7 separate regions of the Homo sapiens genome follow, and regions 1, 2, 3, 4, 5 and 7 are each reported to be linked to region 6. The links are microRNA targets in miRTarBase. Many come from high-throughput screens and were not tested one by one. Region 6 holds a microRNA gene; each other region holds the end of a gene's coding sequence.

Region 1 (4,419 bases), not on the chromosome of region 6:
CTCAAGCAGTGAGTTCACCTCACCCTCCACTGTCTGCTGGTGGAGGCAGCCATCAGCACAGTCATGCCAGCTAGCATGATCCTGAGATTCAGAAACAAACTTCAAAACCAGCATGCAGGCCGGGCGCGGTGGCTCATGGCTGTAATCCCAGCACTTTGGGAGGCCGAGGCGGGCGGATCCCCTGAGCTCAGGATTTTGAGGCCAGCCTGACCAATATGATGAAACCCCGTCTCTACTAAAAATACAAAAATTAGCCGGGCATGGTGGTGGGCACCTGTAATCCCAGCTACTTGGGAGGCTGAGATAGGAGGATCACTTGAACCTAGGAGGCAGAGGTTGCAGTGAGCCGAGATCACGCCATTGCACTCCAGCCTGGGCAACAAGAGCAAAACTCTGTCTCAGAAACAAACAAACAAACAAACAAAACTCCAAAACAAAAAACAGCATGCACGCAGGGTCCCTATCCAAACAAGACAGACAGGAGGGGCGGCCCTTCGTTCAAACTCTCACCTGTTTTAGGCACAACTGCACTGTGGGGCCGAAGCGTGTGCTGCTGAGGGGATTAACACAGCCCGCTCGCTGAGCGCTTCAGTTCGCAGGCGGCGGAAACCTTTGCCAAGAGCACTAGCTGGCTCCCTCAGCAAACAGGACGGGATAAGGTTAGCTCGTTTATCCAACAAATATTTGCAGAGCCCCTACTTTGTACCTGAAACTGTGGACACAGCAACAAGGATCAGAAGAAAGTTTATTCTTGGCCCCAAGAAGCCTGAGGTCTAAAATGGATATAAACTTCAAGCGAAAATAACACAATGACATGTACAATGTCACTGAGAGGAGCTGGCGTTGTTGATTCCGGAACGCTGGCAGGTGCACCGTGAATCGGCAGGTAGCACATGATCCTCAGACCCCCGTGCTTGGCCGTTTGCCTCCGATAAGGGACGGTTTCCAGCAGTTTGTGCTGGCACACATGACCTCCTGCCCCGACACACTCCCGTAAATCCTGCCTATTGTGAGATCTCTCATTCCTCACATGAGCCACCCCATCAGGTGCACGGTGCACCGCTGAGAGGCAACGCAATGACAGAAGGTACCTGAGGACCTGGTTACCTGGCCAGGGCTGGCGGGCCACACACGGGGGCAGGGGCTTGCCCGCTGGTTGCTAGCTGGGGGCTGTTCTCTCATCCTGGGACAATGACGTGGATGCTGACACCTATAGGCAGACATCCCTGCAGCTGAGGAGAATCGAAAGGAAACCACGCCCGAGAAAAACCAATTTAATGCTTCTGTTCTCAGCATTTCACAGCATGCAGGACTCAAATGGATACAACAGAAGAAAAAAACCCACAATTTTTGGAAAAGCCTTTGTCCAATGATTAATATTTTGATATCTATTGACAATCCCTTAGAACTTTAAATCTCAAAAACAAAAAAGTACTGTGGATCTCCATAGTTTATACAGAATTATGTGAATTCTATAAACTTTTCTGAACAAAACAATTACATGTCAAGAATCCATGAAGCCTGGAAGATACGCTCACGTTTTTGAGGTTTGTATTAATGCCAGTTTTTATTGTATTAGACAAATGCTCTCTGAGAATCGAAGACTTCTAAAGGTAGACAGGCCCAGTTTCCCATTAGAGTTCTGGAAGCAGAGCCTGGGGAAGGTCTGTCACTTGCCCATCACTGGACCAGCCAGAAGCCAGCGGGGGCCAGGCGGGGTCTGCAGGCTGCAGGTCCCTTCCAGTCCTGTCCCTGCTGCCCTCTGTGACCATCTCTGCTAAGAAACATCGACAGTTCGTCCTGCAGCCTCCAAGCACACTAACCTCAGCCATCAGATGTTCCTGAAGCCCAGGGTAAGTCCTGTTCTCAGAAGCCAACCCAGCTGCTTGTCTGGGCCATGCTCTCTCACACCGCAGCTAGGTCATCTGCGGCGACTCTCCTCTGTGCTGGGCAGCAGCTCCAGCTGGTCCACGTCCTGCACAGTGCTGCAGGGGGGCAGCAAGGCACGCCTGTGACATGAGAGTCTCGGCACGTGAGGTAGGGTCAACAGTGATGTCCACAACTCAATACCAGCCCTCCACACCTCGGCAGCACTCGTGGGTCCTCCTCAACCAGGCGGACACGAGAAACAGATGATAACATGGTGCAAGGACAGACTTCAGCTCACCAATCAGATGAAGGTTTTGGGGTTGGGTTTTTTCAGACAACGATGTACATTTTAGCTTCCAAATGTGCACAGGGGCACAAAGGTCTGGATGCTGGGCACTACGGGTACCACAAGAGGATGGAAAGAACCAGCTCATTCGGTTTTATTGTATGTATGTATGTATTTATTTTGAGACAGAATCTCACTCTGTCGTCCAGGCTGGAGTGCAGTGGCGCGATCTCGACTCACTGTAACCTCCGTCTCCTGAGTTCAAGCGAATCTCCTGCCTCAGCCTCCTGAGTAGCTGGGATTACAGGCATGTGCCACCATGCCCGGCTAATTTTTGTATTTTTAGTAGAGACAGGGTTTCACCATGTTGGCCAGGCTGGTCTCAAACTCCTGACCTCAGGTGATCCACCTGCCTCGGCCTCCCAAAATGCTGGGATTACAGGTGTGAGCCACCACGCCCGGCCTTGATTTTAAAATCTATAATTCATCACTCATAAAATAAATGTTTTTCATGGAAAAATGTCTTTTTAAATGTAATTAAAATATATTTTAAAAAAACATACTTTATGAAGCTTCTCAGGCAGGTCAAATAATATTTAAGTAAGAGAGGCCCAGTGATATATAAACGGTGTGAGATAAACTCTGCTGGAATCGTGCCACGTGTGCCGTTGCTATGCAAAGCTACATGGGGATTGAGAACCATAAAATGATTTTCAGATGAATGTCTAGAGAAAATGAAAACAAAAATAGAGCTGGTAAATCTAGATATTTGGTAATTCAAAAAATATAAATCGTGAATTGCTGGCACCAATTTTAAAAAACATTAGACTCTACGACAAGATCCTCTCCCTTAGGGCACATTCTTAACAGCTTTGACGTGTATAAAAACGCAGCGCCCTGCAGAGGACACATGCCGTGTTGCCAGTGCCACCGCAACGTCATTCGGCGGGACGCTGCCGGACGCTGGTTCGCCTGACGCGCGAGCTACGCAGCATGCTCTGCGGTCCCACAGGCGGCGCTATGGCTCTACCTTAGTATTTTGTAAATATTAAAAAATCATGCAGAAATTTCCTAACGCAAAAGCTATGATGACAAATCTCCAAACATCCCAAAGCAGCCGTGTCCCGAGGAACTTCCTGCGGTGTCCACAAAGCAGCCGCTGGCTGTCCTCCGGCAGAATGGGATGGCGCCTCTGGTTTCATGGCTGGTCAAGAATGACTTCTGGAATCAGCGACAATGCACCCAGGAACTGACTGCAATCTCCTTGCAGGATACAAATCATTTCATAATCTTACTCCTGCTTAACTTGCTGCCTAGAAAAGGCTGCGTTTTCCACCTGTGACTACTGGCCGTGCATATTCTACAAAATCATCTATAAGAACGGGCCAAGCTCCTAAAGGAAAGCAAGCAAACAGAAAACCCGTTAGAGCACCGTTTTTATCTCCAAAGCACTGAGTCACACATCAATCCAACATTTACACTTCAAGAACCCAAATGACTTGAGGTCCACACCATTTGTGTTTCACAGAATGAACCAGCCCAAGTTACCCAGTTCTTTCGCCCTAGCACGGCCAGGTCGGGAGCCCTGGTGTGTGTGTGCTGGCATGTCTAGGGGGCTGTGGGCTCACAGTGGCCCCGGATGCTCGGTGAGTGCCCCAGGCAGTCACACCAGCTGCTCAGGAAGGGAGCTAAATGGACCCCCGCGGAGCAGGAGGCATGTTCCTCAGGTCATTGGTATTCTTGCCAGCAGGGGGTGCTCCCTCCTGCGGCTCTTCCCAAGTGGGACCACCCCATTGCTCCCTTCCCCACCCCGGCAGCCCTGAGTGCCCTCTGAGCTCCTGCACTGCTGCCTCAATCCTGGAAGCCGCGCTTCTGTCAATGAGATTCAGTGATCCCTTCTTTCATTTGACAAGCATTTACTGGGTGCCCCTGATCTAGGGACGGTGCAAAGTGTGGAGGACACAAAGAGAAGCAGAAGCTAAAACAGGCAGACAGACACGTAAACCACCCGTTAAAGGCACGGCGCCAGGGCCCAGAACAGATCACTGCCCGCCGAGGGGGCAGGGAGGAAGCAAAGTGGGTGGGAGCCTAGAGGGGAGGCCTTCCACCCAGAGACCATCCCTCTCTAAGGTGGCAGCGTGCCCAGCACACAGCAGGCTCCAAAGGCCCTCCAACGCAGAGTCCTAAACACGGGGGGAGACAAGTATGTGGAGATATATTTATGCAAGAAGACAGGAGCTGGAATCTCCGAGTCAGCCTGAAGA
Region 2 (4,382 bases), not on the chromosome of region 6:
ACAGGAAAAGACCCGCCCCCATGATGCAATCACCTCCCACTGGGTCCCTCCCACAACACGTGGGAATTCAAGATGAGATTTGGGTGGGGACACAGCCAACCCACATCAGTGCCCTATACAGGTGTACCATTTTTTATCTTCTTTACCATATTTTTACCATACCCTTGCTATGTTTAGATATGTTTGGATACACAAATACTAAGCATTGTGTTACAATCACCTAGAAGCAACAGGCTATACCATAAGCCTAGGTGTGTAGTAAGCTATGTCATCTATGTCTGTGTGAGTGCACTCTATGATGTTCAACCAAAGTCAAAATTACCTAACACACATCTCAGAACTTAGTTAGAGCAGCCCAAACGGACTGACACCTTTCCTCATCCAAACTCATCTCTGCCATGCCCCATTCCTTTTAACAGGTCATCTTACTACGGGATCTATTGTTTATTCTTATCACAGTGTTAAGAACTGAAAACGTGTTGAGGCAAACTTACCAAATTGTGGCATTGGACGGGGGAATGAGAAGGAATAGTGCAAACATGGATGGAGGAGATACTTTATTTGTATGGATTTTTGTTTTGTTTTGCCTCCTTTTCGCTTTTTTGTTTTTCTTTGTTTTTTGTTTTAGGTCTTTCTGGATCAATTTTTCAACCTCCCAGAAACGACGGCAGGGAAGATGCCTGACCCTCAAAACAAAAGCGCGCATCCTACCGGGGCAATGGGCCCCGTGGGACGAGGTGCAGGGCCGCTGTGGGGCGGGCAGGTGAGGCACAGAGAAGGGCTCACCCAGCCTCCGAAAGGCAGCCATTCCCTTTTCTCAGTGTCCTGCTAAACCTGGAGCCGGGTCGCCCCAGCATCTTCCAGTGGCAGATGGGGAGGAGCAGCACCCACCGCGAAGGTGTCCACGGCCAAGGTCGGGCGCCCGGGCCGCCCAGGCACTGCGGCGGGGACGAGCGGCCAGGAGGCAGCTCAGCGTGGAACTGTAGCCCCGCCGCCCCCGCCCCCCCCTGCCTGGGCTTTTTAGATAAAATCCAGGACTTCATGGACATTTCCCGCATGGGACCGTTTCAGAGTCATTTGCTCATCCCACGAGTTTTTACTGCGCATCTACAATGGGGTGCACAGTGTCCCCTCGGCACTGGGGAGAGGCAGGGAACAGGTGGAGAAGTCTCCCTTTTTCCTGGAGCTTAGACTTCAGAGGAGAGAAGAAGAAGATGAGTAAGCAACTAAGCAAACAAGATAATTTTAGACAGTGATGTGTTCTGTGAAGAAAAGAAATGGGAAGAATGTGACGGAGAGGACTGTGAGGAACCTACTTTCCACTGGGATGCAGGGAGGCCCCTCTGCCGAGGGGATGTAGGTTTAACAAAATTAATGCTAAAATTCTATATTTTCAATGTCAACAATATTTTGTGGGAAACATTGATACCATTTAAAAAGATCTGATTATTTAGAATCTGTGGCAGTTTTTTTTGTCGTTGTTGTTACTGTGGTTGTTTGTTGTTTTTATTGTTTTTAGATTAGGCAACAGTTTAAAAAATCTGTTCAACAGGGGTTGTGGAAGAATGTGCCGTTTGGGATAGAGCCTAGGGAGGAAAACAAATGTTGTTCTCCTGAAGAGCAAGGAAGGGCTAATGCAGACAGAAGATGATGCTAATAAAATATCATTAAGGCTTATTTCGTTACAGCTATTATGAAACCAGATTTTTTTTCTTTTAACTTTTTTGAGATGGAGTCTCACTCTGTTGCCCAGCGGGGAGTACAGTAGCGCTGTCTCAGCTCACTACAGCCTCTGTCTCCCAGGTTCAAGTGATTTTCCTGCCTCAGCCTCCCGAGTAGCTGGGACTACAGGTGCACACCACCACACCCGGCTAATTTTTGTATTTTTAGTACAGACAGGGTTTCACCATGTTGGCCAGGCTGGTCTCGAACTCCTGACCTCAAGTGATCCACCTGCCTCAGCCTCCCACAGTACTGGGATTATAGATGTGAGCCAACGTGCCTGGCCGAAACTGGTTTATTGAATGAACTAAGTCCAGAAAGCGAGGGCTTCATTTTTCTCTAACCATTGCCTTACAACAAAGTTCTGTTGGATCTCCTCCCATCATCACTCCTGAATCTTGGGCAGATACCATAAATTTTAGTGACAAATCTCACTTTAGTCATTGCACCTCTATTTAAGGGATTAAAATGTCCAGGCCAGTCCAATTTAACAGCAATCTCACACCTCATTCAAAAATCTGCTTGGCCTTCCTTGCAGTGAAATGACGAAGGCATATAGTCAGTTTCTTTACTCTTCCTCCATTGTCTCTGTCTTCTCTATATTCTAGATGTCCCTATGCCATTGCAAGGGAAGAGGGTATTACACAAAGAGGAGCAGATCTTCCTGTAGTTAACTATTGAATAAGGCAGACAGGCCAGCATGATCCTGCCAGCTGCTATGGCAGAGTCCAAATGCTGGCTTTTTCATAGGGCACATCTGTGAGTTATTGGAGGGCCTTGAGTGTACCCCACATTGCACAGTTCCATGATGCAGGGCCACATTATCTGGCTGACCTCTTGCAGCAACCTCCACCCCAAACCCCTCTTCTGCCTAACCCCGTGTCCTCTTACTGCTATAGTTTCTTTGCACAACAGGCTACCCTGTTGGCTGATATCCCGTCATGACAATGCAAGCCCAGCTACTCTTCCATAGTCAAAGCCATGTGAAGAAATTCACATCCTTTTACCATGTCAATAATGGGAGGGCAGGTTGCTATCAGTGCTTCTCTTCTCTCATCCTGCCATTTTGGGTGCTCAAGCCAACCTTTCACCTCCTGAATTCCCCAGGGGGGAAGAACTCATCTATTCATTCAACAAATATTCATCAAGCACTTGTATTTGCCAAACACTATTTACCAGTCTCTGTGTTCCCAGTGCCCACCCTCGGACTCCAGCAAACACTCATCAAGCTCTTCCAAGAATTCTCAAGCCACACCACATCTGCTGCACTGAACCTGTGTGCTCCTGTTACTCTGCAAGCTTTCAGTCTTGGAGTGGGATGCCAGGCTACCTTCTACCATGCTGAGTCCCTCACACTTGTCTGCAAGAAATTCAAAGCAATCTCCCTATGGCCTAGAACCTCCGCTTAATGACTCTTTAATCACGCTTTTGACTCTAGTCTTCTAGAGATGGATAATACGGACTGGGAGTCATTGGTCTCTTTCTGCTCTTTTGATAAGTCCAGACTGGCTGTGTCTAGTATCATGTTGGTGCAGTTACTGTCTTTCGTCAGCTTTGAGCCTTTAGCCAGAATTCTAAGACAACCAGAAAAGTCCCATTCAATATCCAGCTGCAAATAAATTTGGCCGAGTTTTCTTGGAAAGCAGGTGGATCCACGTCTTTCACCTCAACAGCTTATGATTAAGTCCATATATCCCTTTACATACATACACTATCAAGTCATGAGTCCTCATTGGTTAATTACATATTTGTGTAGCAGGATAAAAAATTAAATAAGCTATTACACATATGTGAAACAAAAGACTTTTTTATATGCCGTAGCTGATCTAATTTTTTCCCCAAGCCCCAGACTTGAAGAGAATGATGACACTGACCCAAAGACCAATATGATTCACAGGGCACTCCGAGGACTGGTGCATATGATGCTGAAGTTGACTGTTCCCTTGCTGCCATGAAGCCATATAAACTCTTGCTCACAACAGAATCCATTTGGGAAAGCAGAGTGGAGAGGAGCTGAAAAACTGAGCATTTACTCAAAAGAGACTGTTTCAATTTGAAACATAATGATTAAACCAGAAGAGACTGGGCTGTCTCTAACTGGCAGGCTAACCTCACCGCCTAGCTCAGTTCCCCAGATGAAACATTGTTTTTGTTAAGTCTTTCCTGAAGGCATGAGGATAATGGAGGCACCTCCAGACAGTTACTTACGACTGTACTATTCACCATCATCCAAGTAAATAATGGTTTCTTAAGTTGAATTTCCTAAATTTTTTTAAGATTTCACATCATTGTTTTCAGTGACTAGTGTTAATTTCATATTAAAAGCGGCTCTAATGTTAGCCCAAAAGAGCCCACGTTTGCTTTTCTCCTTGGGCCACTGCAAATAAGTCCGCTGCGTCATGAGAGCCTTCAGCTTGTGGTACTTGTTGGGAATGCTGTTCTGTGGAATGGGTTCCAGTAAGATGAGGATTAAGTTATTAGATCCTTCATGAAAGAGATTGTGATGGGCAAAATAGAGTTCGTAATGGCACCACTCACTCTGGACAAAGTTGGGAGACAAAACAAAGATGGACTTGTAACTCTTCTCAATGCAGTTGATGATATTTTCCACAATGCTCTTGCCAGGGACAAAGTTTCTCTCATGAAGACAAATCTGTATA
Region 3 (4,419 bases), not on the chromosome of region 6:
AGGAGTTCAAGACCAGCCTGGCCAACATGGTGAAACTCCGTCTCTACTAAAAATACAAAAAATTAGCCAGGCGTGGTGGCACATGCCTGTAACCCTGGCTACTGGGGAGGCTGAGGCATGAGAATCACTTGAACCCAGGAGCTGAAGGTTGCAGTGAGCTGAGATCACACCACTGCACTCCAGCCCGGGCAACAGAGTGGGACCCTGTCTCAAAAGACAAAAAAAAAAAAAAAAAAAAAAAAAAGAGATAAGTAACTTACTCAGGCTCACACAGCCAGTGTGGGAACTAAACCCAGGTCTGATTGATCAACCCCAAAGCCCTTGCCCTTTCCGCCACCTGAAGCTGCCCTCAAAATCCCTTGTAAGGTGCACCCACCACTGCTTATCCTATCTCCTCTTCACTCTGCCCTCAGGAAAATACCATCCACTGGCAAGTTGGTGCTGACACTCACAACCGACGCCTGTGAGGGGAAGGAAAATTTTGTCCGCTACCTGGAGCATGTCCAGGCTGTCATCACGGTCAACGCAACCAGAAGAGGAGACCTGAACATCAACATGACTTCCCCTATGGGCACCAAGTCCATTTTGCTGAGCCGGCGTCCAAGGGATGACGACTCCAAGGTGGGCTTTGACAAGTGGCCTTTCATGACCACTCACACGTGGGGGGAAGACGCCCGAGGCACCTGGACCCTGGAGCTGGGATTTGTCGGCAGCGCCCCGCAGAAGGGGGTGCTGAAGGAGTGGACCCTGATGCTGCATGGCACTCAGAGTGCCCCGTACATCGACCAGGTGGTGCGGGATTACCAGTCCAAGTTGGCCATGTCCAAGAAAGAGGAGCTGGAGGAAGAGCTGGACGAAGCCGTGGAGAGAAGCCTGAAAAGCATCCTTAACAAGAACTAGCGCTGCACATCCGCCTTTCCCACCGCCCTCCCTCCCCAGCTCCGCCTCTGTCCTCGCTCCACGTTTCAGGCAGGCACCTAGCAATTCCATCACCCGTACAGGCAATTCCGTCTTCTTAATCTGAAGCTTCACTCACTGTCAATGATTATTTTCATTACAATGGAAACAATCTTTTTTACTCTATGCCCCAAATATAGCGTTCCCAACAACATCCATGTCCTATGTGTGACTCTAAATTCTTTATTTCTGTCATTCAAATGGGTGATATCCTGAAAAAAAAAAAAAAAAAAAAACTGGGACAGCTTTCCCCTCATTTTTTTTTTTGTTTCTGAGAAAAGAACGTATTTTAAAAGCCACATAGAGTGACTCCAAGAACAATTGTCCATGGTCTCAAACAAGGGGCTGTTACATAACAAGAAAATCAAAGCTGAGGACAGGGTGTGAGCGCCACATCTCTGAAAGCACAGGAGACACTGTGCTATAAATCCTTTGGGGAGCGATGTTTTGAATTTAGTGAGATTTACCAGGGATGTAGATTAAGGTGATGTGATTCAAAAGATGCCATTCATAGAGAGCCCTAGTTACTGCATGGGGAAAGAGATCCAGGAAGCATGAGTGCTGGATATTTTACTACCAATGCCAAGATAATTCACTCTACTCAGCCGGCGTGGCAAATATAAAACTTACAGAGCGTGGCTGTGCTCTCACCAGCTGCTGCTCTGAGTTATGTTAAAATCCGCTAGAGCAGCCCAAATTTTTCTCAGTTTGTATAGAGTTCATCCCAGCCCCAATTTTCTGGGGCTCCTCACATAGCTACCCAAAAGAGAAAAAAAATTAAGACAAGCCTGGCAACACACCTGGTGAAGAGTAGTTTACTAGCTTTTCAAACAAGAATGTCCCTTTTCCTAAGTCACTTTGAGGTGTCTCAATCTGATCTGAGTGAGAGGCGACAGGAGTATTTTTTTTTTTTTACAGCTTTACACACACAGATGTGGGCTTTGATTTCCAAGTAATATAATGGAAGAGAAATCTCATACTCCCCCACAGTTTGATGTCATTAATGTGTTGGGAAAAAGGCCTCTGTCCCGGAAGAGTCATGGGAGGTGAAAGGGGCACGTTTGAAGATGCGAGCGCTATCTTCACATAGTTCTCCAGTTGTATGGAGCCTCTTCTGCCAAGAGAGGGCCATGCAATTCATCCCAGAGGAACCTGAGGCCTGAAGGAGGTGAGAGAAGACCTCTGTGAGGAAAGCACACAGTCACCTTCTCGGCAACTAAGCAGTCCCTGAGACCATTTAACATGCAACCCGAAGGTTATGGTCAATCCCAAAAGTCACCACTCCATTCCCAACTAGACATTACCAAAGTGACCTACCCAGAGATTGCTTCTCATCCCCAGTCCCAATGCACATCCATTCCCAAGAAATGCTTTGTCTTCAGCCTCTCCAGGCACCATCTCCCTTCCTGTGGGAGCAGAGAGCTTAGCCTGGAGCACCTTTCCTTCAAGCCAGCAACACAGAGCACTAGGTTCAATTCCCTGAAGGTGGCCACTTTAAGAGAGAAATCTGAAAACCCCATTTGCTTTCTTTTCTCCCATATTGGCATGGATTTCTGTCTTCTCTAACACCTTGTGACCTTCTCTATATCATGCTTTAAAGTGTAATAATATGATTTTTTAAAAGAAATTTATTACTTGTTGCAAAGGTCTTTTTAAACCAGTTTAGATTTCAAGAAAAAATAAATGGAAATCATCGAAAATTCATTTCACATTAATGGTCTAAAAATAAACCAAAGGACATTATGTGTGCATGTGTGTATAAGTGCACACAGAAATATATATACATATGTAGACTATATACATGTGTGTATATATGTGTATATATACATACACTTGTATAAATGTATATACACATATACCTATAATGTGTGTATGTGTATTTATTGAAGAAACAGATACCATACTCATTTCTAAAAGAATATTCAGAGAATATCAAGATGATTCTGGCTGAAAAAGGCCAGTGGAAATTCAGGTGAAAATGTTCATCAATTCCCATTGCATCACCTCTGTAATTTTTCAGCTCTCTGTATAAACATTAAATGTCTTATATAGCAGCAAAAATATAAAATAGTTGTCCATATTTTCACAGGTGTGGTGTAATTTATAAAATTAGAAAGCAACTTATCAGCTACTTAAGAGAAATGGCAAGTTTTGATATGAGTATACAATATATAAAAATATATATAGTGCTATATATATAAATATTTGGTCTCTATTTCATTTTTTGCATCAGTATTAATACTAAAATATGTCTCGCTAGTGATGTTTTTATGATATCCCTGATCCTAACTGAAGAGACAGTTATTTATAGTCATTTATTTTAAAAAATGAAAATAAGTGAATAATAATTAGGTTAACATTGTTGCTCCCTGTGACAAAATTTTATAAGCAAATTTCAAAAGACATGTTGTAAATTAGGAGGCTCAACAATAAAACATTATGCTCCAGAAATTATGTGAGATGTGCTATATTGTACATGAAAATACTTTCATCCATTCTAGGAACAGATAATTTAAAAATTGCCAAAGAGAGATCTAAAGAGCCTGCTTTACTAAGTATGCATAAAAGACTTATAATTAACATATAAATCATACACAAATTATTATCTACAGCAGTATTTTTCAAACTCTAGTTACATCCATTAGTGGGTTGTAAAATCAATTTAGGAGGTCAGTTTTTAATAAAATAGAGTAATTTAGAATACAGTAGGAGAGAAGAAAATCACAGGATAGGATAGGATAGAATAGAATAGAATAGAATAGAATAGAATAGAATAATCATGCATAATAAGGATAAGTATTGTTTCCTGAAATATTTGTTTCAGATGTGTGTGTGCACACGTGTGTGTGTCTGAGTGTGTGTACTGGATCACAATGTAAAATACATTTTTCATTGTGAGTGATGGTCAAAAATCTTTTAGAAACACTATTCTAAAATATATTAATCAGGCTAGACTAAGTTATGCTATAGTAACAGACAATCTCAAAATCTCAGTGGTTTAATACAACAAAGGTTTATTTATCATCCACACAAATTCCAGTGAAGGTTCAGGTGACTCCCCAAAGCCACAGACCTCCATGCAGTGACTCAGGATCCAGGCTGTTTCACCGTATGGTTTGTAATCATAGCACAAGGCTGCTACAATCACCATGCAGAAGAGAACCCAAGGAGGACATTCATCTGCTCTTCTATGTTTAGCCTGAAGGAGACACATGCATCGCTTCTGCCCATTGCCCACTGGCCAGTATTGGGCAATAGCCCTGGCTAAATGCAAAGCAACTGGGAAATCTGTGACAACTAAGGGAATATTTGGTGAGCATTAGAGTCTCCACTACAGAGAGTGCTTGACATTCCCTTAAAACATGTTCTTAAGAACCGATTTAACATGGCAATCACTCTTCATGGATGGTACCATGAACATTATTACAAACTGGCTGTACCTTACCCCATAGACCACAGACT
Region 4 (4,419 bases), not on the chromosome of region 6:
CGCCTGGGCAAGGCCTTGATGGGACTACAGGTAATAGGTCTGGGGCTGGAAACAGGAGAGATTTGAGTGGGATGGAGTGGGGAGAGGGTCTATGTTGACTTTCTAGATAAGCTTCTAGTACCAAAGTGTCACAATGGTTGTGGTACTAGGAGCAGGGGCCAGTTTTAGAAAGGGTACTTTTAAGCACCTTGACACCTAATCTTTTCTTTCTGATCCCTCTGGGACCAAAGCGCTTCAGAGAGGCAGCTGCTGTGTTTCAGGAAACTCTGAGAGGTGGGTCCCAGCCTGACGCAGCCCGAGAGCTCCGCTCTTGCCTTCTCCACCTCACACTGGTAAGGGGGCCAGGCACACTGTCATGCTGAGGCGGGTATCAGGGAGAATTGGCTGGGACTGCAATACCAAGCCTCAGGTGGCTAAGGAGGGGGCGGGGAAGGATGGGTGGAATGAGAGGCATGGGCTCTCCTGCTTAAAAGAAGGATCTGGTGCCCTTCTCTCTCCCTTCTCAGCAGGGTCAGCGAGGAGGAATCTGTGCACCACCTCTGTCACCTGGGGCCCTCCAGCCACTTCCCCATGCTGAGCTGGCACCCTCAGGCCTACCTTCCCTCAGGTGCCCTCGAAGCACTGCTTTGAGGTCCCCTGGCCTGTCTCCACTCTTGCATTATCCTTCATGTCACCGAAGCCACCCCAACCAGCCCCTCTCCCAGACTCAGAGTAGAAGGCCCCATCCTCTCAAGCCCCAGGACCCTTCAAAGGGCTGGGACATCCTGGGACTTGGGCTCCAGCATCTGTCTCAGGCCAGATGAGGGGGCACCGGTCCCTCATAGGGCAGGGCCATGTATATATCCCTTGGTGGGGGACATAGTGTGGTGACAGTTCACTGCATATTTTGAGACCTTATTCTCTAGATCCATAGTTAATGATGCCCTGGCAGTCATTCCTCTTGCCATGGGGAAGCTTCTGATGAGAGAAAGGAGCCCCACATCCACTGAAACATCCTTTGGTTCTCAAGCTTCTTCTGGAGGCAGTAAGGAAAAATAAAACCCACCAAGGCTCAAGAAGGGAACTATAGAAAAGTTCAGGTTTTTAGGCTATAGCAGAGACAGTGAGAAAGCATCTGGGCCTTTCTCTTCCTCTTGGTCCAGGGGACCTCATTCACCAACTAGAGCTTGGTGTACAGGAACGGGGTCACAGTGCTGAGGGGGCTTGAGTCCCACCTTTCAGCTTGATGGATGCTCACCTCTTCTCAGCCCCAGCTCGTGCCCTGTTTTTCTAGCCATAGCCCCCAGATTACTCACAGCTCCTCATGCCATTTCCTGTCCAGATTGCTATGTATGACTCTGACCTCTCTTGTCCAGTGGTCTGGTGCTCACCTCCTCTCACTGCTAGAATATTCACCAAGGGTTTGCATTTGGGAAGTCCCTTACCAGCTCCTGCTTAGAGCTGGTAGGGCCATACATGTCCACACTCCCAACTGGTGGCTCTCCCGCTGAATGGGGCCTCAGCAGGTGCCCAAGCTGCTACAACCTTGGCCACTCTGTTTCTCCACCCCAGCACTGGGCATGGTAATTAGCCTTTCCCCATGTTAATTTATTCAGTTTTTTCAAGGGTCAACTGAATTCCCCACTTCCTGGGTAAGAAGCATGATCTCCTTTTAATTTCACGTCTAAGATCCTGGCAGCTTCCCCTAGCTGGTTCCTCTGTAGTCCTGCTGGGACTGTCAGCTCATTTAAATGTGGGTCTGCAGAAGGCTTTAGGTCTCCCCCAACCCCCTTACCTTTCACAGAGGAACCTTTCATCAGGATAAATGATTATTGCTGCCCTGTGGGTCTTGCTCAATACTGTTCATACCTGGAGAGAGAAGGTATTGAAACATCTCCTTTATGTGTGACTTTCCCAAATTTTTAAAAATTGTTTATGGTTTAGGCCCCTTAAATACTGTGTAGCAGGATGAAGTCTACCATTACCAGCTGGGTCACCTTGGATGGGTCTGTCAACATCTAAGCCTCAGTTCCCTCACCTGTAAAAATGAGGGTAGTCCCTACCTCATAAGGGATATTGTGAGGATGGAAAGCGAAAGTGTGAGAAAATACCTCCCAAGTGCCTGGTACATAGTGGGTGCTAAATAAACCACTTTTTGTCTGCAACTGTCCTACATAGTCATGCTTCCCACAATAGGAAGAGAGGAGTGTGGGTGAATTGGTGCTGAAATTCACAAAATCCAGAGTTCTGGGACTGGATTCTCAAAGTGTGCTTTCTAGGCTAGCAGCATCAGCATCATCCAGGAACTTACTAGAAATGCAATTTCTCAGGCTGGGCACGGTGGCTCACGCCTGTAATCTCAGCACTTTGGGAGGCCAAGATGGGTGGATCACCTGAGGTCAGGAGTTTGAGACCAGCCTGACCAACATGGAGAAACGCCTCCTCTGCTAAAAATACAAAATTAGCCAGGTGTGGTGTCACATGCCTGTAATCCCAGCTACTCGGGAGGCTGAGGCAGGAGAATCGCTTGAACCTGGGAGGCGGAGGTTGCGGTGAGCCGAGATTGCGCCATTGCATTCCAGCCTGGGTAACGAGCAAAACTCTCAAAAAAAAAAAAAAAAGAAATGCAATTTCTCAGGCCCCCTGCAGTGACCTACATCAGAAACCATGGGAGCAGGGCCCAGCAATTTGTGTTTCAATAAACCTACCAAGTGATCCTGATACACACTGTTCAAGGGCGGGGCTTAGCGGAGCAGACCTCCATCCAGAGGCCATTTTGGTGGGACAGGTTTGAGTTTTGTTGTCCAAGTCTTCAGTATAAGAGGTGGCAGTGCTAGCTGGGCTAGAATTTGGGAAACCTCAATGGGGAGAGAGGTTATGACTCAGCCAGTTAATTTGACTGGACCCTACCTTCCTAACTAGAAGGATTTGCCCTGAGAGTTCTTTGCTCACCCCTGGTTGGGGAGCAGGATGGGCATAGGTGGTTGTGTTTGTCCAAGGGGTGATTATATTACAGTGGTTCCATAAGAGGCCTGCCCATCTGGCTTTCCTGTTTTTGAGCAGGGACCTGCATGCTTTTGGGATGTCTGTAGGGCTCCTGACCTCTCAAAGGCCACCCACCACTACTCAATGGTATTTTTGCCTTCCAGCTGAGCTGGCTCCTTGTTCTAGCTTCTCAAGTAAATGTTCCCTCCCCAGTACCTTAGCCTGCCCTGGACTTGTAGCTTCTCCAAGAGTCACGTGACTCCTGACACTTTGCCCCATTTTCACCCTCCTAATTAATAGGGGTCTGACCCAACAGCCTGAGTTCTGAGTTCCCAGGACTGGAAAGTAGAGTGACCAACCATCCTGGTTTTCCTGGAACTGAGGGATGTTCTGGAGTGAGGGACTTTCAATGCCAAAACTTGGAAAATGCTGGGCAGATGGGAAAGAGTTGATCACCCTACTGGAAATGTTCCAGAGAGGCAGTATTTAGAAGGGAGTACTGAAGGGGCAATGCAGTTGCAAAGAATTATTTTTTTGCATATGCATAATGGCTGACAGATTCTTAGCTCCACACCAGTGGTCACTGTCTGTTTCCATGTTGCCATTTTTCTTCCAGTTGCCCACATTTGCTAGGTTGTCATTGACTCATGCAATCCTTGATCCCTGGGGCAATCGCAGATTCCTCTTCTGTGACCACCTCCCAGCCCCACCTCAAGTCTGGCCCTGAGTTCTCTCTGCTGTTACCTTTTGCAGTGGCCAGATATATACTCCCTTTTTCAGGTCTCTACCAGTCTCTGATCCAACCTGCGCCCACAGCCAGATTGGCCTACCCTAAACAATGGTCTCTTGTCTCTCTTCTCTAAAACCTCCAGGGACCATGCTCTAAAGTACAATGCCTAAGTCCCTACCTGTGGCCCTTTCTCCTCCCCTTTCTCTGTAAATCCTTTGCTTCTTTCCTTTAGGCTCAGTCACCTTTATAGAGACCAAGAGCATGGGCTCCTGAGTCGGACAAGCAAACAGCTCAGTCCCTGTGCCACCACTTACAAACTGTGACCTGGCCAAGTTTCCTCAGGGTTCTGTAATTCAGTCTCATCCTTAAAATGGAAAGAAAAGTCTCTGTCCTGTTGGGTTATTTTAAGGATTAATACCTGCAAAGCACTTGGAACTGCTTAATAAGTGGTACTGTCTGAAAATGCCAGATTCCCTTCTGCCTTCCAGCCTTGTTCACTTTCCAAGGAATATTCTCTCTTGGGCCCTCCACCTGCAACTAAGGCCCTAGCTGACCCCCGTTGAACCCATGGAACTTCCTTGAAAGTAGGGTTGTCACACTTAGGCAGAGGCAGGAGAAAGTCTGAAGAGAGCCAGAGGACTGACAGGAGAGAAGGGAAGCAGGAAAGACAACTGAGCTTGATCTGAAGATTGGCTGGGACCACTGGGGAGGGGAAGGCCTGCAAC
Region 5 (4,419 bases), not on the chromosome of region 6:
TGGCAGTTCCTTAAAAGATTAAACAGAGTTACCTTATGACCCAGCAGTTGCTCAGTGTACAGCTAGGTATACACTCAAGAGAAATTAAAACATATGTCCAAACAAAAACTTATACACAAATGTTTATAGCAGCATTACATAATAACCAAAATGTGTAAATCCAAATGGCTATCAATGGATGAATGGATAAACAAAATGTGGTATATCCATGCAATAGAGTATTATTTGGCCATAAAGAGGAATGAAGTACCAATACATGCTACAACATAGATGAACTCTGAAAACATTAGGCTGAGTAAAGGAAGATAAGACAGAAAAAGGCACTACTGTATGAGCCCATTTATATGAAATGTCCAGAACAGGCAAATCTATAGAGACAGAAAACAAATTAGTGGTACCAGGAGTTAAGGGGGAGAAGAGAAGGAATGACTGCTTAAGGGTACAGGGTTTCTTTTTGGGGTAATGAAAACATTCTGGAATTGATAATGATGATAATTGTACAACGTTGTGAATGTACTAACGGCCACTAAATTATACACTTTAAAATGGTGAATTTTATATGAATTTTACTTCAATTTTAAAAAAGAAAAAGAATGAAGTACTGCTGTGTGCTGCTATATAGATGAAACCGGAAAACATTATACTAAGTGGAAGATGCCAGTCACAAAAGACCACATATTATTATGATCCCATTTCTGTGAAATATCCAAAATGGGCAAATATATAGAGAAACAGCAGATTAGTGCTAGCCAGGGGTTGGGGAGGATTGGAGGGTGATATCTAAACAGTAGATTTTCTTTTGGGGTTGGTGAAAATGTTCTAAAATTGATTCTGGTGATGGTTGTACAATTCTGTAAATACACAAAAACCATTAAATCTTACACCTTACATGGGTAAATTTTATGGTAAATTGCATTTCAATAAAGCTTTTTTAAAAAAGAATCAGGGCTGGGTGCAATGGCTCACACCTGCAATCCCAACACTTGAGGAGGTCGAGGCAGGAGGATGGCTTGAGGCCAGGAGTTCAAGACCAGCCTAGGCAAGACAGCAAGACCCCCACCTCTACAAAAAATTAAAGGAAAAAAAAAAAGAATCATTGAGTTAGTGTGGAATGGACTCTGATTTCAAGGAAAAGGGAGGGATAAGATAATTTTTCTTTTTAAAAGAGAGAGGATCTATGTTGCCCAGGCTGGAGTGCAGTGGCTATTCACAGGTGCATTCATTGTGCACTACAGCCTCTAACTCCTGGGCTCAAGTGATCCACCTCAGCCTCTACATAGCTGGGACCATGCCTGGCTAATTTTTTTATTTTTGTAGAGACGGAGTCTTGCTATCCTCAAGTGATCCTCCCACCTCTGCCTCCCAAGTAGCTGGGACTATAGGGACATGCCACAGTGCCTGGCTAGAAATAATTTTTAATAGCGTAAATCAATGTACTAATGTCTTTATCTAATAGAATCTTATAGATACACCAGGAGAAAGAATAGACAGTGGTTGGCAGATCAGCAAATTAGCCTTAGGCTCCAGGCAAGGAGGCTACTGCAAAAAGTGCAGGGTACCTGGCTGAGAAGTGGAGGAACTAGGGCCTAAAATCCTTCCATGGGTGCTAGGGATGGAGGAAAGGTTTTTGTTTTGGTTTTTTTCCCCTTTCTCAAAAAGACACCATTTGCTCACCGAACTATGCTTGGGAGTTGTGTCCACCAGACTTGGGGAGAAGCGTTTTTCTAATTCATCTTACAGGCCAGCTGGGGCCAACTTCACCCCCTTGCATTATTAAACCTCTTTCTACCATGGTTAACAACCTATCCCTTTTTTTTTTTTTTTTTTTTTGAGAGAGAGTCTGGCTCTGTCTCCCAGGCTGGAGTGCAGTAGCGTGATCTTGGCTCACTGTAACCTCTGCCTCCCAGGTTCAAGCGATTCTCCTGCCTCAGCCTCCTGAGTAGCCGGAATTACAGGTGCACACCACCACACCTGGCTAATTTTTGTATTTTTAGTAGAGATGGGGTTTTGCCATGTTGGCCAGGCTGGTCTCAAACTCCTGACCTCAGGTGATCCACCCGCCTTGGCTCCCCAAAGTGCTGAGATTACAGGCATGAGGCACCACACCCAGCTGAACCATACTTTTCATCATCTTACTATTTGGCATCTGTAACACTAGGGACCACTGGCCATTAATAATCTGAACTTAGCCAGGTGCTGTGGCTCACACCTGTAATCCTAGTGCTTTGAGAGGCCAAGGTGGAAGGATCGCTTGAGGCCAGGAGTTCACGAACAGCCTGGGCAATGTAGCAAGACTCTGTCTGTACAGAAATTTAAAAATTAGCCAGGCATGGTCCCAGATACTGAGGAGGCTGAGATGGATCACTTGAGCCCAGGAGTTTGAAACTACAGGGAGCTATGATTGCACCACTGCCCTCCAGCCTGGACAATAGAGCAAAAATATGTCTTTAAAATGATAGTAACAATAAAAATAATTTCAATTCTTCCCTTAGCTACCTACCACAGCAGTGAACGTTTATACTTCACAACCACTACTACTCAGCTTCTCTACTTTATGCCAGCTAAAAGTAGGTGCTATCCCATGGTTTTAACATCTGTTCTGTTTTTCAGTGGTATCAGCTCCTCTTGTTCTAGGTACTGTCAAACCTCAAATCCCAGTCCTGATGCTTCTCTCCAGGGCCTCTTCCCAACTCTTTTGATGGACATCTCTAGGAGGATTTCATGCCAGCATTTCAAACATGACAGGAGTGCTGGGGTGAACAGAGGGCACAAAACATACACATGAGAAAAGAACCAGTGGATTCACACAATTTTGGCTTCAAGTCAGGAATAATGAATGGGACAAGGTGGAATGCTACATAAGATGGGCATGTAGATCTGATAAAGAGTGGCACAGGTTGGGAAACAAGGGAGGCTTCCACAGAAGGGAAGGGCAAAGGGTGTTCTATAGTGAAAAGGCCCAGTGGAGCGGGGGCATAGCACTATTTGGGGCTTCAGACAGTTAAAGTCGGTGCTGCATGATGCCTGGGCTTGTCTTCTCAGTCTTCTCTCTTTATCAGACAAAGAACAGGAACTTAACAAAATGTGTTGCATGGCAAAGGAAAATAGCGGTGGGATAATAGGATTGATTTGGGAAGAGGTGGAGGCAGTGAATTCAGACAACTCCAACCACTTCATAAAGGTTCTCAGGTGCAGCCAGGCTTTCCTAAGATGACTGATCTCATCTGTGCCTGGTGGCAGGAGAGACTGATCCTCCTCACAACCCCTATAGAACAGTGGGGCTCCCCCACATCTCAGACACACATAATTATATTATCATTTTATTACACTTTTTTTTAAATAGTAGAGACGGGGTCTTGTTATGTTCCACAGGCTGGTCTTGAACTCCTGGGACCAAGCAATCCTCCCACCTCTGCCTCCCAAAGTGCTGGGATTATAGGTGCAAGTCACCACGCCCGGCCTATTTTATTCCACTTCGGAGACCGCCCCCCTTGTCCCTCAGATGCATCCAAATCAGGAGTTAGGGATCATACTCCACTGTGGTCCTGAATTATAGAATAATGAAGTCCTAGATGTCAGCGGCCCCTGGCTGCATGATAGTAAGAGTATGGCTGAGCCTGTCTTGCAGATCATCCAGTACCTGTACAGGCCAGGCTACACTGTTCTCAAGCACTCTCTGTAGCCAAGTGCCAGTAATCACAGACTAGGCTACCTCTGCTGGGCCAGAAATAGCTGCCTGAACCAGGAGCTCACAGCACCATCCACTCTCATCACCAAAGCTATGCCCAGGAGAAGTCCCACGCTGCTCACAATGAAGCCCACAGCCTCAAATATGAACCTGCAAAGAAAGGCGGAGAATCTCAGGCAACAGAGTAGGTCTACTGCCTTTTCCCTGTAGAGGCAAAACCTTGGCCATCCTGGATGTTTAGGATCTTCATACTTTGTTCCAAGTTTCTCCCTCCCCACCACCTCTACTTCTCAAGCAAATCTACTCACTTAGGGGCAAACACTTTCCAGACCATGAGATGCCTGCGAAGGATGGAGGCTGCCAAGGCACAGGCCAGAATCTAGAGGAGGAGAGGAGGGGCCACGTTACTTGTGAAGGAGAGGAGGAAGCGGAGCAAAAGGAGAGTTTCTATAGGCCCCTGTAAAAAATGGAAGCAGGAGAATAGTGCATGTCAGTGGAAAAAATATTGCATGTCCTGGGCTAGGAGTTAGGAGACCTACTTCCTGCCCTGCCCCAAGCACTGACTCACTATGTGACTTTGGGCAAGTCAGTATCCATCTGCAATGCTAACACTCAGGCTGTGCCCCCAGGATGGAGGAAGATATCAGTGCCACATCTGCCTCTGGAGGAAAGGAAGAGGATCCATGACCACAGTTTGGGAAGAAAATCCTGGCTATCACCTCAGTTTTTCC
Region 6 (4,338 bases):
ACCTGGCTGCCCAGGTTCCAAGTGAAGGAAAGAGGCTGCCAAACCGAGCCCTGCCCCAAGGCGAATAGCCATGGACATAGCCATTGTGTACCGTAGCCCCTCGGCTCACCAGACCCACACCAGAAAGGCCCTGTGGACTGCCCATCCCTGGGCCATCCTGGCTGGAGCCCACTTCCCGCAAACCCAGGGCCGACCTCTTCCCAAGCTGAAGCTGAGCACGGTGGGTGCAAGTTGACCATCCTGCACTGAGGGCCAGAGTGCCGATTCCCGCACACCCAGCAGGAGTAGCACCAGGAGAGGACGCCTGAGCTGAGCTTTTCTAGGTAGGGGAGTGTGGGGAATGGGGGCGTCTGCCTGGCCTTGCACTCCCCCTACCGGCCATGCCCGCCCTGCTGCAGTGGAGCTGCTGCTCCCCGGCAGGTCCTGGGACAGCTGTCCACACAGCTCTGGCACTCGCCCTTGTGGGTGTGGCCATACCCCCCACCAGGCCCCAGGCCCCTGGCAGGCTGAAGAGGTCACTGGACAGCACTTTATTGACACCCTCGGACCCGGGGCAGGGTCAGCAAGACTCCCAGCTGGCATCAGACTGTGTCTGGCCTGCTGTCGCCATCCCTGAGGGGTGCAGGACAGAGCCCCATAGGGGCAGAGAGGCCTCCCTGGGACCAGAGGAGGATGCTGTGCAGCCAGGCCCATCCCCAGCACTCGAGGCCTAGGAGGAGAGGTGGGCTCTGGCAGCGGGTGTGAGGTGGCAGTGAGAAGCCAGGCCCTCAGGTGCAGCTCAGGCCTCTGCCGCTGGGGCCTCATAGTTGAGCACGTAGTAGTCGTGGACGTACATGAGGACGGCTATTGGCTGTCCGATGATGAGCGACAGCCACACAGCTGCGTTGCCATAGTTGCCCTGGAAAAAGCGGCCCACGAACCAGGCCAGTGGGATCTAGGGAGTGAGGGGCCAAGTCAGTCGGCCATGGTGACCACAGGGCTGGGGGCTTCAGGGTCCCTGGGCATGGGGAGGGTCAGCCGAGGGGTTCAGGTGCGGGGTAACTGGGCGAGTGAGGAGGCCACGTGGGGGTCACTCACCTGAGCCATCATGCCCGTGAACGCCCAGAGGCGGAACATTCGCAGAGGGACGCTCACCAGGTACTGAGATGGGAGGGAGAGAGGATGCCAGGGAGTGGGGTGTCAGCCGTCCCTGCTGTGGGCATACCCCTGCCCAGGGATGAGGCAAGATGCCCCCCAGAGCACTGACCTCGTGGAAGAAGGCCGAGGCCAGGAACACCCCTGTCCTGGCCATCCACTTGCTGCTGCCCCGTCGAAGCATGGGCTTGTAGAAGTGTCTGCAGAGGAGGGGGCATGGAAAGCGGTTCAGGTTCACAGCCATGTTCCACATCACACACACACACACCCCACCTACCTGATGCACCACTTGTGCACAGGGATGTTCCAGTTCTGCCAGAAGTAGGTGACAGACTCGGAGTTCCTGGGGGCCAAGAGACCACAGGGGGATCAGAGCACACCATGGCCCATCCCAGCCCCCAGGGACACCCCAGGGACACTCACCACCAGTCCCGGTAGAACTCCCGGTCTCCAAACTGCATGAGCTCAGCCACGGCATTCAGGCAGGAGTGGAAGAGCCAGTAGAAGAAGATGAGCCAGATGAGGTGATTGGGGACCTGGCAGGGAGGTGGGGGTGGGCACCAAGTTCTAGAACCTTCCCCCACATGCCACTGTCCCCTCCTGTCCTGTGCATGCGCCACCTGTCCGCACTCACCGCCAGCTTCAGGAGGCGCTCGATGATGCGTGAGTAGTCCATGTCCTGCAGAAACAAGCCCTTCAGCTAGCCATGCTCCTGGTCACTCCCCAGCCACCCCAGCTGCAAGAGCACCTGAGCCACTCACCTTGAAGGGCTTCATGGAGTTCTGGATGGTGGGGACCATCCACTGCAAAGGAGGGCACCACGTCAGCTCCCAGCCATGCCCAGCTACACCCAACCCTGCCCTACCCCACTTACCTGCTGGATCAGCCCCACCTGGAGCTGGGTGAAGAACAGCTGGGGGGGAAACAGAGAGCAGCCAGCTGAGGCCCTGGCTAGCCAGAAGGCCCCCTAGCCTCCAGTGGCTGCCCCCAGCCCCCAACCTCACCATCTCAAGGATCCGTCGCAGCAGAAAGCGCTTCCGGATGCGGGGAGAGCGGGGAAAGTTGAGCTCGTAGCACAAGGTGGGGGCGAAGAGGAAGTAGTAGAGATCTGGAATGGGAATGGGGGGTTGGTACCAGAACAGGCCCAGCCTGTCCCCCGCACCTCAGGCCCACAGAGGTCCTCACCGCGGTAGGTCAGATTGTCCGGGTAGCTCACGGTGTGCGGGGCAGCAGCACTGCTGGCCTTCTTCCCTGCAGAGGCTACGAGCACAGCAGAGTGGGAGGGGGCTGGTGGGGCCCTGCTGCTGCCCAGCCCCCCAGCAGGCAGCCCCAGCCCCTGGCAGCCCCTCACCAGCCTTGGCCCTGGCCCTGCGGCACCATGAGTTGACGTCGCGGTAGGAGAAGAGCTTGAGGAAGAGGATGGTGTGCGCCATCAGCGCCAGCAGGGAGCCCACTGCAGGAGAGGTGGACTCAGGCCTCCACAGCGCCACAGCCGGAGGCCATGCCCGTGGCTGGCCCGAGACAGATGGGCAGGGTGGGATGGGGGCGCACCTGGAGTGATAGACTCAACCAGTAAGACCACAGCCGCTGGGAAACACAGAATGGTGGCCAGGTTGGCCACGTGCAGCAGCAGTCCCGCCTGCTCCGTCAGGGCACCCTGGAGTGGGGAGCAGAGCACTCAACCAGGGCTCCCATTGCCTGGGAGAGGGCTGCCAGGCCTGGGGAGCAGCTCCTCCCAGGAGCGCACACAGCAGGGTGAGCACACACGGAGGTGAGGGGCACTGCTTACCACCGCCAGGCGCTTCTCAACCTGGAATGCAGCCACAGCAAAGACATTGGCCGCTGTGGACAGAAGCACCAAGGGGCAGGTTTAGGGCCACGTCAGCCTGATCCCCACCCGAGGCCCTCCTCAGAGCCCAGCTCACCAATAACCAGGCATGGGGCGGGCCAGCTATAGGGATCCTTCAGGAACAGAGAAACCACCTGGATGGGGTCCACCAGGATGCCATACCTGGGGGTGGAGGGATGGGGGTCTGAGTGGGTGGCAGGTGGGGCTGTGGGGCGGGGCCTGGACAGGCCATGGGTGGGGCAGGGGTGGGACCTGGCAAAGGCACTCACTTGATGAGGTTCTCCAGAAATAACCGGGCATTGCTCAAGATCTGCGAGGGATGGACAGGAGGGTGCAGCCCCTTTAGTCCTGGCCACAGGGTACTCACCCCAGATCCTCCCAACACCTCTGGGCACGTCCCAGCCCGAGCTCAGGGCGGCAGCCTCAGGCTTGCAGACCCAGCCCTGTCTGGTCTCCATGCCAAGCTCTGAGACTCAGCACCCACCTCAGCCAACACCAGTGCTGGGTAAGGGGAAGTCCCTCCCTGTCCCCATCACACCAGACGGTCCCACATGGAGGGAACCAACCGGCCAGACCAACCAACCCTGCCAGACGCCTGGGTCTTCAGGAGCAGAAAGACCAGCTGCTGATCTGCTCACATCCCTCCTGCTGAGCCGAGCCAGTGAGGGACCCAAGGCTCCCACAGCCAACCACACCCCAGAGACAGCCCCAGAATACAGGCCTGCCCAGGGAGGCCTGCCCACGGCTGAGCCCCAAGGAACCAGTCCCTACTGGTGGCCAAGGCTGAAGAGGGGGAGTTGTCTACTCTTTCTCTGCAGGAGCAGTGTCCAGCTGTGTCGCAAGGGGGGCTGGGCCTGGAGTGCTTCCCAGGGCTTGTGCCCCGCCTGCCTCTTCTGCTTCCTGCCGCCCTCTAAGCCTTGGACACTTGGCTCCAAAGCAACTTCCCAGGACTGAGCCCCCATGGAATAAGGCTCTTGGGACGAGCCTGGAGTTGGGTGCTTGGCCTCCCTCTGCAAGGACAGGAACCTCCTCCTCCATCTTACAAGCACTACCAACACCTCCATTAAGCTGGGCCCCAATGCCGCAGACCTGGCTGACCACCCGGAGCTCGGGCCTCATGCGGTAGTGAACTGGTGCTGGGGAAAAGGGTCGCTGGCAAGGGAACACTGAGGGTGTCTTGCCTGGGTGGTCAGGGAAGGCTTCATGAGAGAGAAGACTGCTTCAGAGACACAAGGGCTACTGCCCCGCCTCCCCCGGCCGCAGGGCTGACACACAGGCCTTCTGCATGGACACGTGGCCCACACTGTCACTGGCCTCTCCCGAGGGCTGACAGCAGGCAGAAGCCAAAGCTGCCA
Region 7 (4,419 bases), not on the chromosome of region 6:
TTGTGAAACAAAATATATCCTATGGTGCTTAGAATGGTTGTTAAATGGTGAGTTAGTTTTCCAAGTAAAAACTTTACGTGCATTAACAGAGGGGAATGCATAATAATCCTATGAGGTAGGCCCTATTATCCTCATTGAATAGAAGAGAAAAGGAGGCTCAAAAAAATTAAGTAACCCACAAAAAGTCACACAGCTGTGACTGTCAGTGTCCTGCTGGGCACTGCAAACTAGGCCACTTTTAAAGTAAGATCATTTTAAATTGAGTACTCTTACTTACAAAATGAACACATTAATGTGATAATTGACAAAATATTTCAGATGCTGGACTTATAGAAAGTTTAAGGAAAACCAAGATTAAGGATTCCAGATTCAGGTAACTCTCTTTATCTTTTTTTTAGACAGGGGTCTCACTTTGTCAGCCAGTACAGTGGCGTGATCTCAGTTCACTGCAACCTCTGCTTCCCAGGTTCAGGTGATCCTCTGACCTCAGCTTCCTGAGTAGCTGGGACCACAAGTGCATGCCATCACGCCTGGCTAATTTTTTTTTTTTTTTTAGAGACAGGGTTTCACCATGTTGGCCAGGCTGGTCTCAAATCCTGAGTTCAGGCGATCCGCCCACCTCTGCCTCCCAGAGTTCTGAGATTACATGCGTGAGCCACTGTGCCAGGCATTAGGTCCCTTTCAAATTCAAGATATTCCTAATTTTTCTGGTCTACTATTGCAGGGTAAGGGAAGAATCTTCTTCCTCTTTTTTTTTTTTTTTTTTTTTTTGAGACCGTGTCTCAGTCTGTCGCCCAGGCTGGAGTGCAGTGGCGCCATCTCGGCTCACCGAAACCTCTGCCTCCCAGGTTCAAGTGATTCTCCTGCCTCAGTCTCCCAAGTAGCTGAGACTACAGGCACCTGCCACTATGCCTGGCTAATTTTTGTAGAGATGGAGTTTCACTGTGTTGGCCAGGCTGGTCTTGAGCTCCTGATCTTGTGATCCGCCCGCCTTGGCCTCCTGAAGTGCTGGGATTACAGGTGTGAGCCACTGTGCCCGACTGGTGGGAAGAATCTTCTATGGCTTAAAAAACAAACGTAGGCTGGGTGTGGTGGCTCAGGCCGGGTATGGTGGCTCATGCCTGTAATCATCCCAGCACTCTGGGAGGTTGAGGCGGGTGGATCACCTAAGGTCAGGAGTTCGAGACCAGCCTGACCAACATGGAGAAACCCCATCTCTACTAAAAACACAAAATTAGCCAGGTGTGGTGGCGCATGCCTTAATCCCAGCTACTCGGGAGGCTGAGGCAGGAGAATCGCTTGAACCTGGGAGGCAGAAGTTGTGGTGAGCCGAGATCACGCCATTGCACTCCAGCCTGGGCAACAGAGTGAAACTCCATCTCAAAAAACAACGACAACAACAACAACACAACAACAAACGCAGCAATTCCATTCCTAGGTGTACACCCAAAAAAATTGAAAACAGGTATTCAAACAAATATTTGTACACAAATGTTCACTGAAGCATTATTCACAATAGCCAAAAGAAGGAAACAACCCAAATCATCAACAGATACCGGATAAACAAAATATGATATCCATACAATGGAATATTATTTAGCCATAAAAAGGAATAAAGTACTGATACATGCTATAATGTTGGTTAAACTTGAAAATATGATGATGTCCCGGTGTGGTAGCTCACACCTATAATCCCAGCACTTTGGGAGGCCGAGGCAGTTGGATCACCTGAGGTCAGCTCAGGACCAGCTGGGCCAACATGGTGAAACCCTGTCTCTATACTAAAGGTACAAAAATTAGCTGGGCGTGGTGGTACACACTAGTAATCCCAGCTACTTGGGAAGCTGAGGCAGGAGAATCTCTTGAACCTGGGAGGCGGAGGTTGAGATTGCGCCATTGCACTCCAGCCTGGGCAATAAGAGTAAAACTCTGTCTCAAAAAAAAAAAAAAAAAGAAAAGAAAATATTATGCTAAGTGAAAGAAGCCAGATACATAAAAAGGTCACATATCATATGATTCCATTTATATGAAATATCCAGAATAGGTAAATCCACAGAGACAGGGTGCAGATTAGTGGCTATTGTTAGCAGTCGGAGGAGAAGGGAATGGGGACTAACTGCTTAATAGGTATAGGGCCTCCTTTGGGGGTGATAAGAATGTTCTGCAACTAGAGAGTAGTGATGGTTGCACACCACTGTAAATGTTCTGCCAACGAATGGTACACTTTAAAATGGTGAATTTTATGATATATGAATTTCACCTCTTTTAAGTTCCAAATAAGGCATCAGTGTAGCGGAGGTCCTCTAATCTGTCTGGTTGGCAAAGCACCTAGTAGTTTACAGTACAGAAGAAGCTTTAAAAATGCTTTTAATTTGTATAAAGTGCAAAGAAAAAGAATATTGAGAAGCACATGAAAGAATATAAAATGGCTAGAGCCTAAAAAATAAGCTAATATACACGCATAGGGACACATCTGCATATTTGAGCATACAGAGACATGTAAATACTCAGGAGAGAAATTTGCTTTTCCTCATAACTTATTTTGTGTTTCTCCAAAACCTGAAGAGTAGATAACAGCTGACAGTTACCCCCCTCTGAGTGTGACAAGAGGTCACGCACAGGGAGGGCCTCTAGCTGCCATTTCCTGTTGCTTCCCTGGTCAAACAACGCAGGCGGCTAAGTCACTTTAGGAAACGCTCAACAGGGCTCCCATTGTTCCAACCTCAAAATTCCGAGATACAACGGGCCCCATTAATACAGACAGCTTACAGGCTGGGGGATGGTCCCTTAGTGTGCAGTCCACTTTTTATTGGGACACTGAATTTTCAAAAACACTGACTTGCACAAATAGTGTTAATTATTTTTTTTAAATGGTACAGAAATAAAATTCAAAAGATACTAAACTGGGAGTCAGGACACCTGAGTCTTACCCTCAGCTCTCTGATGCGACTTTAAGCAAAGTCGCTTGCTCTTTCTGGACCTCAGTTTCCTTGTTTGTAAAAACAGAAATGATTTCTAAGATCACTCAGAATTGTAAAATTCTATGAACACTTATGAAGTCTATTGAGCTTGCGTCACTGTTCACTCCAATGAGTGGGGATAAGTTGTAAGCAGAAAAATATCATTACTTCACATCTTTTCGTTCACTATCAACACTTAAAAACAAACAGCCTTAATAAAAATCAAGTCCACTTTGTTTTCTCTCTTAAACAGACAAATCATAACGAACAGAGTCCAGTGAGTCCCTCTGTCGCAACAAGTTCAGGATCACTCAAGCAGGTAACCGCACACAACGCACAATGATGAAGAGCATAAACACAAGCCATAAGTATATTTTTATGTCGCTTTTTCTTAGGTTATTGATGCATTTCCAGAATCTCTTCATTTCTTTGCAATAACTGAAAACCCCAGAAGAAAGACACCATTTACATTAAGAATGTGATCAATGTTACAAGCTTCTGCACCATGTCATTTTTTTGTTTTTTCAACCTCAAAACTTGCCAGAGCAAGAATTTTGTCTCCAGAGCCTAAGAAAAAAGACACATAATAAACAAAAAGATTATTTCAAGTGCAGTTGCAATTCCTGGTAAAGTGGGAAAAAATCTATCATATAGATATTAAAACAGAAAATATAATTAGCCTCCATTATCAGTGTATTAACCCCTACACGTTCCCATTGCCATCCCAATTTCCTTCCCTCTGCACAAACAATCCAGCTACAAAGGGGGACTTATTAGTTATAAATCCTTATTCTAGCTATGAAATATAATATGTAAAATTTAATTTATTTATTTATTTATTTTTTTGAGATGGAGTTTCGCTCTTGTCGCCCAGGCTGGAGTGCAGTGGTGCGATCTCGGCTCACTGCAACTTCCACCTCCTGGGTTCAAGCAATTATCCTTGCCTCAGCCTCCCTAGTAGCTGGGATTACAGGCACGTGCCACCATGCCCAGCCAATTTTTGTGTTTTTGGTAGAGAGGGTTTCACCCTGTTGGCCGGGCTGGTCTCGAACTCCTGACCTCAGGTGATCCACCCACTTCAGCCTCCCAAAGTGCTGGGATTACAGGCTTGAGCCACCGCACCTGGCCATAAAATTTATTTTAAAACATTTCTGTGAAAAAAAAAAATAAAGAAAGAAGAAATATTTTTTGCGGGGAGACAGGTCTTGCTCTGTCACCCAGGCTGGAGTACAATGGCATGATCTTGGCTCACTGCAGCCTCAAATATCTGGGTTCAAGTGATCCTCCTGCCTCAGCTTCTCAAGTAGCTAGAACTGTAAGTGCATGCCACCACACCTAGCTAATTTTTTTTCTTTTTAATTTTGTTTATTTATTCATTTATTTATTTATTTGAGATGAGTCTCGCTCTGTCGCCCAGGCTGGTGTGCAGTGGCACAATCTCGGCTCACTGCAAGCTCCG

Evidence for each region. The annotated mature microRNA hsa-miR-6848-3p reads GUGGUCUCUUGGCCCCCAG and lies in region 6 at 1,478-1,496, opposite strand. An mRNA with a match to its seed (bases 2 to 7 or 8) in the 3' UTR can be bound and repressed. Matches are read on the target gene's strand: a 7mer-m8 pairs with bases 2 to 8, a 7mer-A1 pairs with bases 2 to 7 and ends in A, and an 8mer does both.
Region 1: the mRNA of DCUN1D2 is a reported target of hsa-miR-6848-3p. Seed matches in the 3' UTR shown: 7mer-m8 at 2,533-2,539.
Region 2: miRTarBase lists TLR6 as a target of hsa-miR-6848-3p. Seed matches in the 3' UTR shown: 8mer at 3,195-3,202 and 7mer-m8 at 1,922-1,928.
Region 3: miRTarBase lists PCSK2 as a target of hsa-miR-6848-3p. Seed matches in the 3' UTR shown: 7mer-m8 at 2,187-2,193.
Region 4: the mRNA of TTC31 is a reported target of hsa-miR-6848-3p. The part of its 3' UTR that is shown has no 7-base or 8-base seed match.
Region 5: miRTarBase lists PIGO as a target of hsa-miR-6848-3p. The part of its 3' UTR that is shown has no 7-base or 8-base seed match.
Region 7: miRTarBase lists LZIC as a target of hsa-miR-6848-3p. Seed matches in the 3' UTR shown: 7mer-m8 at 585-591.

Annotation. Positions count from the first base shown.
Region 1 is chr13:113,454,561-113,458,979 of GRCh38, forward strand. DCUN1D2 (defective in cullin neddylation 1 domain containing 2) reads right to left here. Exons shown (of 7, transcript NM_001014283.2): 7 at 1,259-3,548. The coding sequence ends at 3,469. Among named protein-coding and RNA genes, the nearest start is that of ADPRHL1, 3.3 kb to the left of the region's middle. RefSeq lists an enhancer at 1,458-2,388.
Region 2 is chr4:38,823,089-38,827,470 of GRCh38, forward strand. It overlaps TLR6 (toll like receptor 6), which reads right to left. Exons shown (of 2, transcript NM_006068.5): 2 at 1-4,382. The coding sequence ends at 3,995. Among named protein-coding and RNA genes, the nearest start is that of TLR1, 20 kb to the left of the region's middle. RefSeq lists an enhancer at 649-818.
Region 3 is chr20:17,481,171-17,485,589 of GRCh38, forward strand. PCSK2 (proprotein convertase subtilisin/kexin type 2) reads left to right here. Exons shown (of 12, transcript NM_002594.5): 12 at 414-3,408. The coding sequence ends at 900. Among named protein-coding and RNA genes, the nearest start is that of BFSP1, 48 kb to the right of the region's middle.
Region 4 is chr2:74,492,416-74,496,834 of GRCh38, forward strand. It overlaps TTC31 (tetratricopeptide repeat domain 31), which reads left to right. Exons shown (of 13, transcript NM_022492.6): 11 at 1-30; 12 at 231-332; 13 at 507-2,144. The coding sequence ends at 803. Among named protein-coding and RNA genes, the nearest start is that of LBX2, 5.0 kb to the right of the region's middle.
Region 5 is chr9:35,085,384-35,089,802 of GRCh38, forward strand. PIGO (phosphatidylinositol glycan anchor biosynthesis class O) reads right to left here. Exons shown (of 11, transcript NM_032634.4): 10 at 3,997-4,067; 11 at 3,305-3,838. The coding sequence ends at 3,709. Among named protein-coding and RNA genes, the nearest start is that of FANCG, 7.7 kb to the left of the region's middle.
Region 6 is chr8:144,315,776-144,320,113 of GRCh38, forward strand. It overlaps MIR6848 (microRNA 6848), which reads right to left and starts at 1,540; the gene lies at 1,471-1,540. DGAT1 (diacylglycerol O-acyltransferase 1) reads right to left here. Exons shown (of 17, transcript NM_012079.6): 3 at 3,253-3,293; 4 at 3,060-3,145; 5 at 2,924-2,976; 6 at 2,686-2,791; 7 at 2,486-2,587; 8 at 2,320-2,394; 9 at 2,139-2,242; 10 at 2,009-2,047; 11 at 1,896-1,937; 12 at 1,769-1,813; 13 at 1,558-1,670; 14 at 1,412-1,477; 15 at 1,247-1,334; 16 at 1,078-1,140; 1 more. The coding sequence ends at 779. RefSeq lists enhancers at 579-638, 1,489-1,738, 4,155-4,338.
Region 7 is chr1:9,926,931-9,931,349 of GRCh38, forward strand. It overlaps LZIC (leucine zipper and CTNNBIP1 domain containing), which reads right to left. Exons shown (of 8, transcript NM_032368.5): 8 at 1-3,527. The coding sequence ends at 3,469. Among named protein-coding and RNA genes, the nearest start is that of LZIC, 14 kb to the right of the region's middle. RefSeq lists enhancers at 884-1,393, 3,883-4,382.